Homo sapiens: one gene and its partners. The protein of the gene in region 2 purifies or fractionates together with the protein of the main gene of each other region. This does not show direct contact. Each region holds a gene or a part of one and is shown on either strand. Other genes may lie near its edges.

Region 1 (4,016 bases), on a different chromosome or scaffold from region 2:
CTAAGACTCGGAAATTAAGTTGCTTAAGGTTACTCAGTAAAATGGTGGGGTTAGGGTTTGACTTCATCATTAACTTTGTAAAATAATGTTTAACGTTCTTGGTATACCAGTGATATATTGCAAACAGTTCTAATGTGAGTGAGAGAACCTCTTCTCCACCCTATTTTAAAACATTTTTACTGACCTATGCAAGCATTTTACATTTCCTCACCTTGGGCTCTGGGGCTTTAACTGTATGGTTACATCATTTGCAAGAATAAGTTGGTCCCTGTCCCGTCTCTGCTGTGTGGGATCACAAGCGACAATTACAGTTTTTTTTCTAGTCAGCAATAATGAGATAAAATGAAGCCAGAATTTTTTACCTCAGCTGTTGTTGCTATTGTGCCTGAGCTTATTTCCTTTATTGATATCTTAAGAGTGAAAAAATGAATGCTCCAGGAGGGCAGTGTGTCAGTTGAAGTGCATTGTGTATAGTTTATATAGTTAAGTGCTTTTGGCTAAATATGATGTTGTTTTTCTAGTGGAATGGAATTTAACTTTCTAAAATGATTAAGGGTAATTTTAGTCGTTTTGTATTTACATTTAATGAACTTCACTGGTCTCATTGTAAATAAAGCGTTTTGAGAGAAATATTCAGCAGAATGGTGTGGGGCGCAATGAAAACAGTTTATGCATGGGCCTTGTTTTCATTTAAGTTCTTATTTCTTTACAGTTATACTTAGTTTACTCTGAGTTTGGTTTCTAAGTCAGCTTTAGGAAAAATTGTGAAGCAGGTATCTTTGGACTCTGAGTTTGGTTTCTAAGTCAGCTTTAGGAAAAATTGTGAAGCAGGTATCTTTGGCATTCCCAGCCTTTCTGTCCATTTTCCTGATGCCACTTTGCTTCTCTTTTTTCTTCTGACATCCGTTATTTAGTAATTTATATTTATATTTAGACCTCAGTATAAATTTAAGTAACTATTAGATTCCAGAGATATTTTAATTTTATCCTTTATTTCAGTGTGTAATGAGACTTTTGTTCATATAAAAGGAAATAATTTAGAGAAATAGGCTATCTAAGGATATGTTCCAGAGATATTTTTATTTTATCCTTCTTTACTTTTTTTTTTTTGAGATGGAGTCTCGCTCTGTCGTCCAGACTGGAGTGCAGTGGCGCGATCTCAGCTCACTGCAACCTCCACCTCCAGGGTTCAAGCAATTCTCCTGCCTCAGCCTCCCAAGTAGCTGGGATTACAGGCACGCACCACCACGTCCAGCTAATTTTTGTATTTTTAGTAGAGACAGGGTTTTACCATGTTGGCCAGGGTGGTCTCGAACTCCTGACCTCAGACCATCATTTTCTAAGGTGATCTTTCTGTAGCATAAACAAATGTCATTCCTCTGCTTTAAAACCCTGCAGTGATATCCCATTGCAACAAGTTGAAGGTCTGAATTTCTTTTACATTGATCTGTAAGTCCTGTACCATCTGCTCTGCCTACCTCGGGCTTCTTCACATCCTGCCTCCTTCTCATTGTTTAGATCAAATCTCAACTATTACCTCCTCAGAAAGACCTACTTTGATCACCTTATTTCTTGTTTTTTTTTTTTTTTTTTTAATACGGAGTCTTAATAGATTTTTTTAAATTACATGTATCTGTTTTTTATTTATTTTAAATTAATTTAATTTAATTTAATTTTTTTGAGATGGAATTTCGCTTTGTCGTCCAGTCTGGAGTGCGGTGGCGTGATCTCAGCTCACTGCAACCTCTTCCTCCCAGGTCAAAGTGATTCTCTTGCCTCAGCCTCCTGAGTAGCTGGGATTACAGGCGTGCACCACTAAGCCCAGCTAATTTTTTTTTTTTTTTTTTTTTGAGACAGAGTTTCACTCTTTTCACCCATGCTGGAGTATAATGGCACGATCTCAGCTCACTGCAACCTCCGCCTCCCAGGTTCAAGTGATTCTCCTGCCTCAGCCTCCCAAGTAGCTGGAATTACAGGCATGCGCCACCATGCCTGGCTAATTTTTGTATTTTTAGTAGACGCAGGGTTTCACCATGTTGGCCAGGCTGGTCTTGAACTCTGGACCTCAGGTGATCCACCTGCCTCTCAGCCTCCCAAAGTGCTGGGATTACAGGTGTGAGCCGCCGCACCCGGTACCTGGCTAATTTTTGTATTTTTTGTAGAGACAGGGTTTCACCATGTTGGCCAGGCTGGTTTTGAACTCCTGATCTCAGGCGATCTACCCACCTCAGCCTCCCAAAGTGTTGGAATTACAGGCGTGAGCCACTGCACCCGGCTTCGCTTTATTTCAAGTAGTGCCTTCAATTGCTGTCACATCATCTTATTTTCAGTATATGATATTACCTTGTTTGTTACACGTTTATTGTCTGGCTTCCCTCCACCAGATGACAAGTTTGTCTTATTTGTTGCCCTGTCCCCAAACAACTAGGATAGTGCTGGCGTACAGTTAGCAATCAGTAAATGTTTGCCAACATAATGTGAAATAGCTAATCAAGAACTTAAGGAACAGAATTGCTTTAATTTCTGTTTATCAGAAGGAAGCATTTATAATTTAGTGAAAGAAATTACAGGTGCAGCAGTTGGAGGCATATGGACTTGATGTGCAATTTGCCCAGATTATCATTTCTGTACTTCGTTCTTCTTTCTCTCTTTTCTGTGGGGAGGTGGGGGAGGGACAGAGTCTGGCTCTGTTGCCCAGGCTGGAGTGCAGGGCATGATCTCCGCTCACTGCAACCTCCGCCTCCTGGGCTCAAGCAATCCTGCCACCTCAGCCTCCTGAGTAGCTGGAACCATGCCACCACACCTGGCTAATTTTTTTTTTTTTTTTTTTTTTTTTTTTTTTTTGAGACGGAGTCTTGCTCTGTCGCCCAGGCTGGAGTGCAGTGGCGCGATCTCGGCTCACTGCAAGCTCCGCCTCCCGGGTTCACGCCATTCTCCTGCCTCAGCCTCCCGAGCAGCTGGGACTACAGGCGCCCGTCACCGCGCCCAGCTAATTTTTTTTTTTTTTTTTTTGTATTTTTAGTAGAGACGGGGTTTCACCGTGGTCTGGATCTCCTGACCTCATGATCCGCCCGCCTCAGCCTCCCAAAGTGCTGGGATTACAGGCGTGAGCCACTGTGCCCGGCCTACACCTGGCTAATTTTTATGTTTTTGTTTTTGTTTTTTTTTGATGCAGAGTCTCACTCTGTCGCCTAGGCTGGAGTACAGTGGCGGAATCTCGGCTCACTGCAACCTCCATCTCCCGGGCTCAAGTGATTTTCATGCCTCCGCTTCCTGAGTAGCTGGGATTACAGGCACATGCCACCACGCCCAACTAATTTTTGTATTTTTTAGTAGAGATGGGGTTTCACCATGTTGGCCAGACTGGTCTCAAACTCCTGACTTCAAGTGATTCGCCCACCTCAGCCTCCCAAAGTGCTGGGATTACAGGCGTGAGCCACCACGCCCGGCCAAATTTTTATGTTTTTTGTAGAGACGAGGTATTGCCATGTTGCCCAGGCTGAACTCTTGGGCTCAAGCTATCTGCCTGCCTTGGTCTCCCAAAGTGGTAGGATTACAGGCGTGAACCACCAGGCCCAGACCTTCTTTCCCATTTTTAATGGTAAAATGGGAATCAATATGGAAAAATATAAAAGAGGCCTGTGTTAACATGTTAACTCCGGTCACTTAATACTGGATGACACTTTGCAAAGTACTTAAACTGTGAACCTCAGTTTTTCATCTATAAGTAGTTCTGTACCTGTAGATGAAAGTTCTACAATCTACAAGTAGAGATAATTCTGTCTGGAATTTACATTCCAGACACTGTCTACAGTGCTGGAAATTACATTCCCAGTTTGTGAGAGACGAATTGGACTAGCCTCTCTGTAGTAAATTAGCATATGCTTTGAAGAACTAGGAGGACAAAATGGAAAATATTGTGTTAATGACATCCATTTTGTCTTTTTTTTTTTTTTTTTTTTGAGACATATTCTTGTTCTGTCACCCAGGCTGGAGTGCAGTGGCATGATCTTGAC
Region 2 (5,740 bases):
AAGTGATCCGCCCGCCTCAGCCTCCCACAGTGCTGGGATTACAGGCGTGAGCCACTGTGCCCTGCTACCTTGTTTGTTTTTTTTGAGACAGGGTCTCACTGCGTCCCCCAGGCTAGAGTGCAGTGGCACAGTCACAGCTCACTGCAGCCTCAAATTCCCCGGTTCAAGTTATCCTGTTGTCTCAGTCTCTGGAGTAGCTGGGACTACAGGTGCATGCCACCATGCCTGGCTAGTTTTTTTTTTTCTTTTTTCTTTTTTTGAGATGGAGTCTTACTGTGTCACCTAGGCCGGAGTGCAGTAGTGGGGTCTAGTCTCTCTGCAACCTCCGTCTCCCGGGTTCAAGTGATTCTCTCCTGCCTCAGCCTCCTGAGTAGCAGGGATTATAGGTGCGCATGCCACCACATTGAGCTAATTTTTGTATTTTTAGTAGAGGTAGGGTTTCACTGTGTTGGCCAGGCTGGTCTCAAACTCCTGACCTGAAGTGATCCGCCTGCCTCAACCTCCCAAACTGCTGGGATTATGGGCGTGAGCCACCACGCCCAGCCTTTATTTTTTATTTTTTTAAAATTTTTAATAGAGATGAGGTCTTGATATGTTGCGCAGGCTGGTCTTAAACTCCAGAGCTCAAGCAATCCTCCTGCCTTGGCCTCTCAAACTGCTGAGATCACAGGCATGAGCCACCATGCCTGCCACACCCCCCCCCCTTTTTTTTTAACAGCTGGAAATGATTTATCCATTAAGTACAGTGATATGGTGCCTAGGACTTATGACATTCTTAGGGGCCCACAAAAGTGTTTCAATTTCTTTAAAATCAGAAGCTGTAGGGCTGGGCACGGTGGCTCACGCCTGTAATCCCAGCACTTTGGGAGGCCAATGTGAGCGGATCATGAGGTCAAGAGATTGAGACCATCCTGGCCAACATGGTGAAACCCTGTCTCCATTAAAAATACAAAAATTAGCTGGGCATGGTGGCACACGCCTCTAGTCCCAGCTACTCGGGAGGCTGAGGCAGGAGAATTGCTTGAACCAGGAGATGGAGGTTGCAGTGAGCTGAGATCGTGCCACTGCACTCCAGCCTGGGTAACAGAGTGAGACTCCCTCTCAAAAAAAAAAAAAAAAAAAATCAGAAGCTGCAGAGGATAAGTAAACAAATGGGTCAGGCAACGTTCCTCTAAAACTTGATTTAGGAAAACAGGTGGTATGCTGGATTTGACCCCTGGGCCTTAAGAGTGATAAGGGTGTATCCGGAAGCTAATAGTAGTTGTTTTCAGGGGGACTCTGAGGTTATGTTTTCTTTGCTTATTCCAGGTAGCTTTAAAAAGAAAAGAAAGTTCACCCATAATCCTGTCCCATACAGAAATTTATATAAAGCTGTGGATCTCGCGTGTTTGCAGAGCGCTCTAGTCTGTGGAGAGTATTTTGTGCTTAAGGTGCTGGGAATAGCAATGAGGCTAGGAAAAGCTGAGGCTCAGACTGTCCTCACCCAGCAGCAGGTGCAGCCTGGCTCTTTCTGCGCACTCATCTATTCCTCCGCTTATCCTGGGAAGTAAATGCTGTCATCATCACCCCTGTTTCATCTTCCCCTAAGCCCTTGGCAGCTGAGGGACCGTACACTCCACTCATTGATATTTTTTTTGTTTGTTTTTGAGATGAAGTTTTGGTCTTGTTGCCCAGGTTGGAGTGCAGTGGTACGATCTCGGCTCACTGCAACCTCTGCCTCCTGGTTTCGAGTGATTCTTCTGCCTCAGCCTCCCGAGTAGTTGGGATTACAGGCATGTGCCACCACACCCGGCTAATTTGGTATTTTTAGTAGAGATGGGCTTTCTCCATGTTGGTCAGGCTGGTCTCGAACTCCCAACCTCAGGTGATCCATCCACCTCGGCCTCCCAAAGTTCTGGGATTACAGGCATGAGCCACCCCACCCGGCCATAAAGGGTGTTGGATGAATGAACATACCCCCATTTTATAGATGAGGAAACTGAAGTAAGACACATTGATCCACTTGCCTGTGGTCATGTGGCTGGTGAGGGCCAGCCCCTGGATCAAGGGGTGGCTCTGGTGCTGCCCTCTTGACCCCTCTCCTTCCCTGGCACTGTCCTCACACCACTCTGCTGGCATCCTTGCCTGTGGTGTGGCCTCTGTCAGCCATCTCCATCGTGTGACTGTGGCATCATGACTGTAGTACTTAGCACAGTGCAGCGGGCTCTTTGGGGGCGAATGAGGTGACATACGAAGCACCATGCCTGGTTTGGAGGAAGAGGCAAACCTTTGTCATTGCCACTGTCACTGGTCAGTGGTGTCTTTGAGTCCTGAGCAGATGTAATTCCTTGGGTGGGGACTCAGCACAGAGTGAAGAGCTTGGGGTGAAGACCAGCCTTCCTGGGCTCCCCAGCTCTGCCATTTCCTGGCTCTGCACTGGAATCTCACCCTCTACCAAACGGGAGAAACTCCCACGAGAGGCAGCTGGCGCAGCAGGCCAGAGCTTGTTTTTGTCTTGGAGGGGGACTTAGGTTTGAATCCCAGCTCTCCCCCTGCAGCCTGTTTTCCTGTTTCTTCTCCCCCCAGGATGGAGTGTGGTGTTGTGGTCATAGCTCACTGCAGCCTCCACCTCCTCCTGGGATGGGTCGCCGGCACTGGTCAAGATAGTTCCTAGTTTCAAGGCCAGGGTACATTGCCCAGGGTCAGGCCAGTGCTGTCTCAGGATATGGGAGTGCAGGTTCGGGGCCGCACTGACTGAGTTTACACCCTGACTGCTGCCTTCTCTCTGTGTGCCCTTGGGGAGGATACTGCAGCCCTCTGCCTCAGTTTCCTCCTGTGACCTTTGGGTTAAGAACCATGGTGTGCAGTTGTTGGGAGCATCCTACGGCTGGCTCCTGTGAAGCACTTGGGGCTTCCTGGGCAGGACCTGGTGGCCCAGGGAGTGTCCACGGCTGGGCCAGCAAGCAGGCACCAGGAGGGAGGCAAAGGCCCTGACCGCCTCTCTCTCCCTGTTCCTTTGCAGTTTCTCCACAGTCGAACTCCTCTAGGCCCACCTGTGCCCGTCACCTCACCTTGGGCACGGGAGACGGGGGCCCTGCCCCACCCCCTGCCCCCTCCTCTGCATCCTCCTCCCCTTCCCCTTCTCCCTCATCTTCCTCCCCTTCCCCTCCCCCACCCCCACCGCCCCCTGCACCCCCAGCCCCACCTGCCCCCCGATTCGATATCTATGACCCCTTCCACCCCACCGACGAGGCCTACTCTCCACCGCCTGCTCCGGAGCAAAAGTACGACCCTTTTGAGCCCACCGGCTCCAACCCCAGCTCATCAGCGGGGACCCCCTCACCTGAGGAGGAAGAGGAGGAGGAAGAGGAAGAAGAAGAGGAAGAGGAAGACGAGGAGGAGGAGGAAGGCCTGTCCCAGAGCATCAGCCGCATCTCGGAGACCCTGGCGGGCATCTACGATGACAACAGCCTGAGCCAGGACTTCCCAGGTGACGAGAGCCCCCGCCCGGACGCGCAGCCCACACAGCCGACTCCCGCCCCTGGAACGCCGCCCCAGGTGGACTCCACCCGGGCTGATGGAGCCATGCGCCGGCGGGTCTTCGTGGTGGGGACCGAGGCAGAGGCTTGTCGGGAAGGCAAGGTCTCGGTGGAGGTGGTGACCGCTGGTGGAGCCGCCCTCCCGCCGCCCCTGCTGCCGCCCGGCGACTCGGAGATCGAGGAAGGGGAGATCGTCCAGCCGGAGGAGGAGCCCAGGCTGGCGCTGTCCCTCTTCCGCCCCGGCGGCCGGGCCGCCCGGCCTACACCGGCCGCCTCGGCCACCCCCACGGCCCAGCCCCTTCCTCAGCCTCCCGCTCCGCGGGCCCCCGAGGGGGACGACTTCTTGTCCCTGCATGCGGAGTCGGACGGCGAGGGCGCCCTGCAGGTGGACCTAGGGGAGCCGGCTCCCGCGCCGCCCGCCGCCGACTCGCGCTGGGGCGGCCTGGACCTGCGCCGCAAGATCCTGACCCAACGGCGGGAGCGCTACCGCCAGCGCTCGCCCTCCCCGGCGCCCGCGCCCGCCCCGGCCGCCGCTGCTGGTCCGCCCACGCGCAAGAAGTCCAGGCGGGAACGCAAGCGCAGCGGCGAGGCCAAGGAGGCCGCCTCGTCCTCGTCGGGCACCCAGCCAGCGCCGCCCGCCCCGGCCTCGCCCTGGGACTCCAAGAAGCACCGCTCGCGGGACCGCAAGCCCGGCTCCCACGCCTCGTCGTCCGCCCGCCGCCGCTCCCGCTCCCGCTCCCGCTCCCGCTCCACCCGCCGCCGCTCGCGCAGCACCGACCGCCGCCGCGGGGGCAGCCGCAGGTCGCGGTCCCGGGAGAAGCGGCGACGGCGGCGGCGCTCCGCCTCCCCGCCCCCGGCCACTTCCTCATCGTCGTCCTCGAGGCGCGAGCGGCACCGCGGGAAACACCGGGACGGTGGCGGCAGCAAGAAGAAGAAGAAGCGGTCGCGGTCCCGGGGTGAGAAGCGGTCTGGGGATGGCAGCGAGAAGGCCCCGGCGCCCGCCCCGCCGCCCTCTGGCTCCACCTCGTGTGGTGACCGCGACAGCCGCCGCCGGGGGGCCGTGCCACCCTCCATCCAGGACCTCACGGACCACGACCTCTTCGCCATCAAGCGGACCATCACGGTGGGCCGGCTTGACAAGTCCGACCCCCGAGGACCCTCTCCTGCTCCGGCCTCCTCACCTAAGCGGGAGGTCCTGTACGACTCCGAGGGACTGAGCGGCGAGGAGCGGGGCGGCAAGAGCAGCCAGAAGGATCGGCGCCGCTCGGGGGCCGCCTCCTCCTCCTCCTCTTCCCGGGAGAAGGGGTCTCGTCGGAAGGCGCTGGACGGGGGTGACCGGGATCGGGACAGGGACAGAGATAGGGACAGGGACAGGTCATCCAAGAAGGCCCGGCCCCCCAAGGAGTCGGCGCCTTCCTCAGGGCCCCCGCCAAAGCCACCAGTCAGCAGCGGCTCAGGCTCTTCATCCTCGTCGTCCTCCTGTTCTTCCCGGAAGGTGAAGCTGCAGTCCAAGGTGGCGGTGCTGATCCGCGAGGGTGTCAGCAGCACCACCCCGGCCAAGGATGCCGCGTCAGCCGGCCTGGGCTCCATTGGCGTCAAATTCAGCCGTGACCGCGAGAGTCGCTCCCCCTTCCTCAAACCTGACGAGCGGGCCCCCACTGAGATGGCCAAAGCAGCTCCGGGCAGCACCAAGCCCAAAAAGACCAAGGTCAAGGCCAAGGCAGGGGCCAAGAAAACCAAGGGGACCAAGGGAAAGACCAAGCCATCCAAGACCAGGAAAAAGGTCCGCAGTGGAGGTGGCAGCGGGGGCAGTGGTGGCCAGGTGTCGCTGAAGAAGTCCAAGGCGGATAGCTGCAGCCAGGCGGCAGGCACCAAGGGGGCGGAGGAGACTTCCTGGTCCGGGGAGGAGCGGGCAGCCAAGGTTCCTAGCACCCCGCCCCCCAAGGCAGCCCCACCACCCCCTGCCCTCACTCCGGACTCGCAGACCGTGGACAGCAGCTGCAAGACACCTGAGGTCTCCTTCCTGCCCGAGGAGGCCACTGAGGAGGCTGGGGTCCGAGGTGGGGCGGAGGAGGAGGAGGAGGAAGAAGAAGAGGAGGAGGAAGAGGAAGAGGAGGAGGAGCAGCAGCCTGCTACCACCACGGCCACCAGCACTGCTGCAGCCGCCCCAAGCACTGCCCCCAGCGCGGGGTCCACAGCCGGTGACTCGGGGGCGGAGGACG
Region 3 (4,016 bases), on a different chromosome or scaffold from region 2:
AGGCAATCCATGTTTTCACATCAGACCCATGCAACTGCTAATTTAGTATATGCCTTTTCTGGACTGTAAATGGAAACATACCATATGTGGGATATTGCATCAGACTTCTTTCACTAAGCATAATGTTTTGAGATGCATCCATATTGTAGCCTATATCACTACTCCATTGTATACATATATCATTTAAAGAAATCCACCAGTTAAAAAAAAAAAGAAAAAGAAATAATCTGGGTATGTTGGTGCCTGCCTGCAGTCCCAGTTACTGAGGAGGCTGAGGCAGGAGGATTGTTTGAGCCCAGGAGTTTGACTTCAGAGTATGCAACATAGTGAGGCCTCATCTCTTAAAAAAAAAAAAAAAATCCAGTAGTTGATGGTCATTTGGTTTCCACTTTTTGACTAATATGAATGATAATGCTATGAACATTTGCCTACGAGTCTTGATGTGAACACATTTCCACTTCTCTTCTCATGGAATAGCAGGATCATATGGTAAACTTATGTTTATCTTTTTAAGAAACTGCCAAACTGTTTTCCAAAGTGGCTGCACCATTTTACATTCCCACCAGCAATGCATTAGGGCTCCAGTTTCTCCACATCATCACCAACACATATCTTTGTCTGTCTTTTTTATTATAGTCATTTTAGTGGGTCCAAAATGGTATCTAATTTTGCTTTTAACTTGTATTTTCCTAATGACTAGTGATAGTACACATCTCTTCATATGCTAAGCAATTTGTATATCTTTGCTGAAATATCTATTCAAACATTTTGTCCATTTTTAAGTTGTCTGCCTTATTTTTGAGTTTTAAGAATTCTTTACATAGTCTAGATACAAGTCCTCTATCAGATACTTATTATGGTTTGAAAATATTTTCTCCCAGTCTGTGATTTTTCAATTAATTTTTTTTTTTTTTTTTTTTTTTGAGACAGGGTCTCACTCTGTCACCCAGGCTCTAGTGCGGTGGTGTGATCTTGGCTCACTGCAACCTCTGCCTCCCAGGGTCAAGAGATCCTCCCACCTCAGCCTTCTGAGTAGCCAGGACTACAGGAGCACGCCACCATGCCTGGTTAATTTTTGTATTTTTTGTGGAGATGGCATTTTGCTCTGTTGTCCAGTCTGGTCTCAAATTCCTGAGCTCAAGTGGTCCACCCTCCTTGGCTTCCGAAAGTGCAGGGATTTCAGATGTGAACCACCTCCCCGGGCCAATTAATTTTCTTAATAGTTTTTTGAAACAAAATTTTATATTTTAATGAAGTCCAATTTATTAATATTTTCTTTTATGAATTGTGCTATTAGTGTCTTAAGAATTCTTCCTAAACCAAGGTCATCTAGGTTTTCTCCCATGTTTTCTTCTACATGTTTTATAGTTTTAGCTCTTACATGTAGGTGTGTGATCAATTTTGAGTTTATTTTTGCATATGGTAGGAGGTAAGAATCTAAATTAATTTCTTCTGCATTTGATATCCAAATATCCTAGCACTATTTGTTGAAAAGACCATCTTTTCTCCATAATTTCATTGGGATTTTTGTCAAAACTTAATTGATCATAAATGTGAAGGTTTATTCCTGGACTCTGTTCCACTGATCTGTATGCCTATCTTTATATCAGTACCACACTGTCTTGATTAATGTAGCTTTGTAGTAAGTTCTGGATCAGAATTATTTCTTCATTTTCAGAATTATTTTGGCTATTCTGAATCCTTTATGTTTTCATACAGATTTTAAGATTGGCTTGTCAATTTTTCAAAAAAGCCTGCTGTGATTTTGATAGGGATTGCATTGTAGATTAATTTGGGGAGAACTGCTATCTTAACAACATTTGATCTTCCAATTCATGAACATGGATTGTGTCTACATTTCTTGATACCTTCTTTAATCTCTCTGAATTTTTCTTTTTCTTTTTTTGAGACAGGGTCTTGCTCTGTTGCCCAGGCTGGAGTGCACTGGCACAGTCACAGCTAACTGCAGCCTCAACCTCCCAAGCTCAGGCAATCCTCCCAATGTAGCCTCTCAAGTAGCTGGGACTACAGGTGTGCAGCACCATGCCTGGCTAGTTTTTTAAAATTTAATAATTATTTTTTTTATTATACTTTAAGTTCTGGGTTACATGTGCAGAACATGTAGTTTTGTTACATAGGTATACACATGCCATGGTGGTTTGCTGCACCCACCAACCTGTCACCTACATTAGGTATTTCTCCTAATGTTATCCCTCCCTTAGCCCCCCACCCCCCACAGGCCCTGGTGTGTGATGTTACCCTCCCTGTGTCCATGTGTTCTCATTGTTTAACTCCCACTTATGAGTGAGAACATGCGTTGTTTGGTTTTCTGATCTTGTGATAGTTTGCTGAGAATGATGGTTTCCGGCTTTATCCATGTCCCTGCAAAGGACATGAACTCATCCTTTTTTATGGCTGCATAGTATTCCATGGTATACATGTGCCACATTTTCTTAATCCAGTCTATCATTGACGGGCATTTGGGTTGGTTTCAAATCTTTGCTATTGTGAATAGTGCAGCAATAAACATACGTGTGCATGTGTCTTTATTGTAGAATGATTTATAATCTTTTGGGTATATGCCCAATAGTGGGATTGCTGGGTCAAATGGTATTTCCAGTTCTAGATCCTTGAGGAGTCGTCACACTGACTTCCACAATGGTCGGACTAATTTGCACTCCCACCAACAGTGTAAAAGCGTTCCAATTTTTCCACAACCTCTCCAGCATCTATTGTTTCCTGATTTTTAATGATCGCCATTCTAACTGGCATGAGATGGTATCTCACTGTGGTTTTGATTTTCATTTCTCTAATGACTAGTGATGATGAGCATTTTTTCATATGTCTGTTGGCTGCATAAATGTCTTCTTTTGAGAAGTATCTGTTCATATCCTTTGCCCATTTTTTGATGGGGTTGTTTGCTTTTTTCTTGTAAATTTGTTTAAGTTCTTTGTAGATTCTGGATATTAGCCCTTTGTCAGATGGATATATTGCAAAAATGTTCTCCCATTCTGTAGGTTGCCTGTTCACTCTGATGATAGTTTATTTTGCTGTGCAGAAGCTCTTTAATTAGAACCCATTTGTCAATTTTGGCTTTTGTTGCCATTGCTTTTGGTGTTTTAGACATGAAGTCTTTGCCCATGCCTATGTCCTGAATGGTATTGCCCAGGTTTTCTTCTAGGATTTTTATGGTCCTAGGTCTTACGTTTAAGTCTTTGTTCCATCTTGAGTTGATTTTTGTATAAGGTGTAAGGAAAGGGTCCAGTTACAGTTTTCTGCATATGGCTAGCCCGTTTTCCCAACACCATTTATTAAATAGGGAATCTTTTCCCCATTGCTTGTGTGTGTCAGGTTTGTCAAAGATCAGATGGTGGTAGACGTGTGGTGTTATTTCTGAGGCCTCCATTCTGTTCCATTCGTCTGCATATCTGTTTTTGTACCAGTGCCATGCTGTTTTGGTTACTGTAGGCTTGTAGTAAAGTTTGAAGTCAGGTAGTGTGATGCCTCCAGCTTTGTTCTTCTTGCCCAGGATTGTCTTGGCTAGGTGGGCTCTTTTTTGGTTCCATATGAATCTTAAAGTAGTTTTTTCCAATTCTGTGAAGAAAGTTAGTGGTAGCTTGATGGGGATAGCATTGAATCTATAAATCAGTTTGGGCAACAAGGCCATTGTCATGATATTGATTCTTCCTATCCATGAGCATGGAATGTTTTTCCATTTGTTTGTGTCCTCTCTTATTTCCTTGAGCAGTGCTTTGTATTTTATTTTCTTAGTAGCAATTGTGAATGGGAGTTCACTCATGATTTGGCTCTTTGTCTATTATTGGTATATAGGAATGCTTGTGATTTTTGCACACCGATTTTGTATCCTGAGACTTTGCTGAAGTTGCTTATCAGCTTAAGGAGATTTTGGGATGAGACGATGGGGTTTTCTAAATATACAATCATGTCATCTGCAAACAGAGACAATTTGACTTCCTCTCTTCCTATTTGAATATGCTTTATTGCTTTCTCTTGCC
Region 4 (3,134 bases), on a different chromosome or scaffold from region 2:
GGTCCCTAACCCCAGTGGCATCAGCATCAAGTTGTTTGAACTGTAAACCATCAGGCCTTACCCCAGACCTACTGAATCAGAAGCTCTGGGAGTGGGGCCCAACTATCTGTAGTTTATAAATCCTCTAGGTCAGGGATGTCCAATCTTCTGACTTCCCTGGGCCACCCTGAAGAAGAATTGTCTTGGGCTGCACATAAAATACACTAATGATAGCTAATGAGCTAAAAAAAAAATCTCATAATGTTTTAGTTTACAAATTTGTGTTGCACCACACTCAAAGCCGTCCTGGGTCACGTGCAGCTCACAGGTTGGACAAACTGGCTCTAGGTAATTCTGATGCTCGCTCAAGTTTGGGAACTACTGGCCAAGTAAATCTCCTCCTTCAGCAGTCTCTCTACCATAACATCAGAATTATTTCCAGTACTTTGCTTCCCTCCCAGTCCATTAATCTTTCCCCTTCCCACCCCATATCCAATGAATCAGATTCACAAAACAACCTACACATTTCAAAAAGAACATAAAACTTTATTAAGAACATCTTATACTGTCATCAGATACAGCCAAAGAAGAACGGGTAAACAAACAGGGAAAGTTCATCTTCCCATGTGCTATTGCCACCTCAGAACAGACTCCTGTGTGGATGGCTGGAACAACAGTTGGCAACAAATGCTCTGTATAAATAATTCATTAAGTAACACAATGTTTCCTTTCTATACAGAGAAGAACTGGGCTTACATTTTAAGTTTTGATATAGTGCAACAACTATGAAACAAGACTACATCCTTAGGAGCTATTTCTTAATAGAATACAAAGCAGTTTAGTAGCTTTATGTTATTTCAGATAATGTAATTTTTTTAATGAAAAATTCAGAAAGGACATTCTAACTTTCCCAATTAGTTAATTTGTACTGTTGAGTTTTTTCTCTCTAAAGATTTCTCAGAATCAGTTCAGTAACTATACTTTAAAAAGATGAGTTGCTCATCTACAGTGATAACTGACAACTTAGTTTTGTGATTTTGCAAATCAAGATGCCTGGGTCATCCCCACTTTTGCTGATTCTGAAAGATTTCTTATAGAAAAACCCTGATTCAGAGTGCATGTGATAGGAGATACCAAAATAGCTGCATCTGGACAGGGAGGTTGGCTATTGAGCACAGCTGATTCTCAGATTCCTGGTTCCCCTCTATGGTCCTTTTACTTACTGTAGTGATGGAAGGAGAGAAGGAGCGCCCGAGAATCTGTTCAGATTGTGACTCCAGACAGCTCTCTGCACTGTATGTGGAGAAAAGAGTGATGGCATCCATTCAAACCATAGCAGCCCTACGGCACCATGCTTTTCTCTTGAGGGGTCAGACCAAACTGCACTCAAAGATGCATGATCTGCCTCAGGTGCACAGTGGAGAAAACGCTCATGATTTACAATTTGGTATTATAATACCCCCAACTAATCCCATTTCTTGAGAAAATGAAGTCTTCCTTTTAGGAAGAATGTTTGCTGCTAAGGCTTACCATGTTAATTATCACACGGCTGAAAAGATGACTTCTAAATCAGACTGTATTGTCTGTGTTCAGTTAATACGTTAACCAACAACTGAAGTTTGTGGAGGATTGGTCGAGGGGTGGGATTCAGGTTTTTGAGTACTATCACTTATCACAAATCTCATCAAGCTCTTTAAAAAAATAATGCATTTTTATCATAAATATTTAGAGCAGATACTGGCATTAAAATCAGTATCTAAGTCAGAAGTCTGTCTGAAATGGTGAAAATATTTCAACAAACTTCTAAAAGATTTCAAATCTTCCCAGGAGTACATAGTTTATAAATTAGTTTTAAATGGAAAAAAATATATATTTTGAATGGATAAATCACCACTTTAGCAGATCATAAATAAGGTCAAGATATTGAAAATAAGTTAACATACAAGTTTTTGCTTTCACATTAATAATAAAAACTAACTTACTTAGTATACTTTCATAACATGTACAACCAGGTTTCATAATTGTGCATCTGTCACCTCCCCACTTGGCTGAATCTTTTTCTTCCATTTCCTACACCTAGGGACAGAGGTACACAGACATCCCAGGGTGTGAGTGTGGCTGCTGCATGCTGTGTCCTAGTTAGAGCAGTGTTACAAATGCTGGTCAGGATCTATGATTAGTAACCTGTGAACCACGTTACAAGTGAAGGACATTCATGGTTAGGTGGATTCAGTTCCCAGGTGAGCTATCAGCGGTAGTGTTAGGGAACCTAACTACTATTCTTTCTGTGAGAAAATGCACCCCAAGTCCCAAAAGTTGACTAAAAACTTTGGAATAAGCCATGTATTATTAGTAGTGCATGGATGAGCACTACTTATATGTGTCTCTGTTTTGGAGAGAGGTCAAATTGTTAAAAGAACTATTTGCAGAACTACTTGGCTATTAAAAATAAATGTCTGCCTTCTTCATATGCAATTCATTGTAACTATAATTTCTAATACTGAGAAAGAAACAATGAAGCCATTCAGACTAGAGAGACATAATTGGCTTGTGGGATTTTCAAGATGTTTTATTGACTATCTAATTTGAATCTACTTACAAAGAGAAGAAAAATGTCTAGTATGTAAAGCAATGAATGAAAATAAATGTTTATCCTAAGTCATTATTGAGTACAAATCCACAGCTTAACAATGTGTTTTTAACAGCAGGAGAGCATGCAACTGCTCTAACACACAGGGTCAGAAATAAAAGGTAAAAGTACATTTGTTTTGTAACTGTAAATATACAAATATAAAATTTACCATATCTACCCTGTAGTGTGGCACTGCTTAACTGCCAAATATACAGTCATTCAAAAACCTTAAGGAAACATTGAAAATGTCTCAGGCTACTTTACTGAACATTAACGAATATTGTGTTCTTGAGCTATTAGAGCTAAAAGTATTATTTTTAAAGTTATATGAGCAAGGGAATAATAAAAGTATCATTTCACGTGTCTTTTAATCCCATAGACGGCTTTTTGTTAAAGGGATTAATTATGTTAAAAGGAAACTGATTTGACAAATAGAAACCAGTTCCAGAACCAAAGTTGTCCTCTTGGTAGAATGTCAAAATGTATATTATTTCCAAAGTATTTTCATTATTAATCTACTCAA

The links. Proteins that work in one complex are often made in the same cells at the same time.
Region 1: the proteins of SCAF1 (region 2) and RPRD2 purify together in Homo sapiens (affinity purification with mass spectrometry, with the first as the bait; one large-scale study listed by BioGRID). This does not show direct contact.
Region 3: the proteins of SCAF1 (region 2) and RPAP2 purify together in Homo sapiens (affinity purification with mass spectrometry, with the first as the bait; one large-scale study listed by BioGRID). This does not show direct contact.
Region 4: the proteins of SCAF1 (region 2) and RPRD1A purify together in Homo sapiens (affinity purification with mass spectrometry; one large-scale study listed by BioGRID and IntAct). This does not show direct contact.

What each region holds. Positions count from the first base shown.
Region 1 is NC_000001.11:150,366,631-150,370,646, forward strand, and holds part of RPRD2 (regulation of nuclear pre-mRNA domain-containing protein 2), read left to right. Parts: intron 1-4,016.
Region 2 is NC_000019.10:49,647,867-49,653,606, forward strand, and holds part of SCAF1 (splicing factor, arginine/serine-rich 19), read left to right. Parts: intron 1-3,001; coding exon 3,002-5,740.
Region 3 is NC_000001.11:92,392,543-92,396,558, reverse strand, and holds part of RPAP2 (putative RNA polymerase II subunit B1 CTD phosphatase RPAP2), read right to left. Parts: 3' UTR 1-4,016.
Region 4 is NC_000018.10:35,989,324-35,992,457, forward strand, and holds the end of RPRD1A (regulation of nuclear pre-mRNA domain-containing protein 1A), read right to left. Parts: 3' UTR 501-3,134; downstream 1-500. UniProt on the Homo sapiens protein: Interacts with phosphorylated C-terminal heptapeptide repeat domain (CTD) of the largest RNA polymerase II subunit POLR2A, and participates in dephosphorylation of the CTD by RPAP2.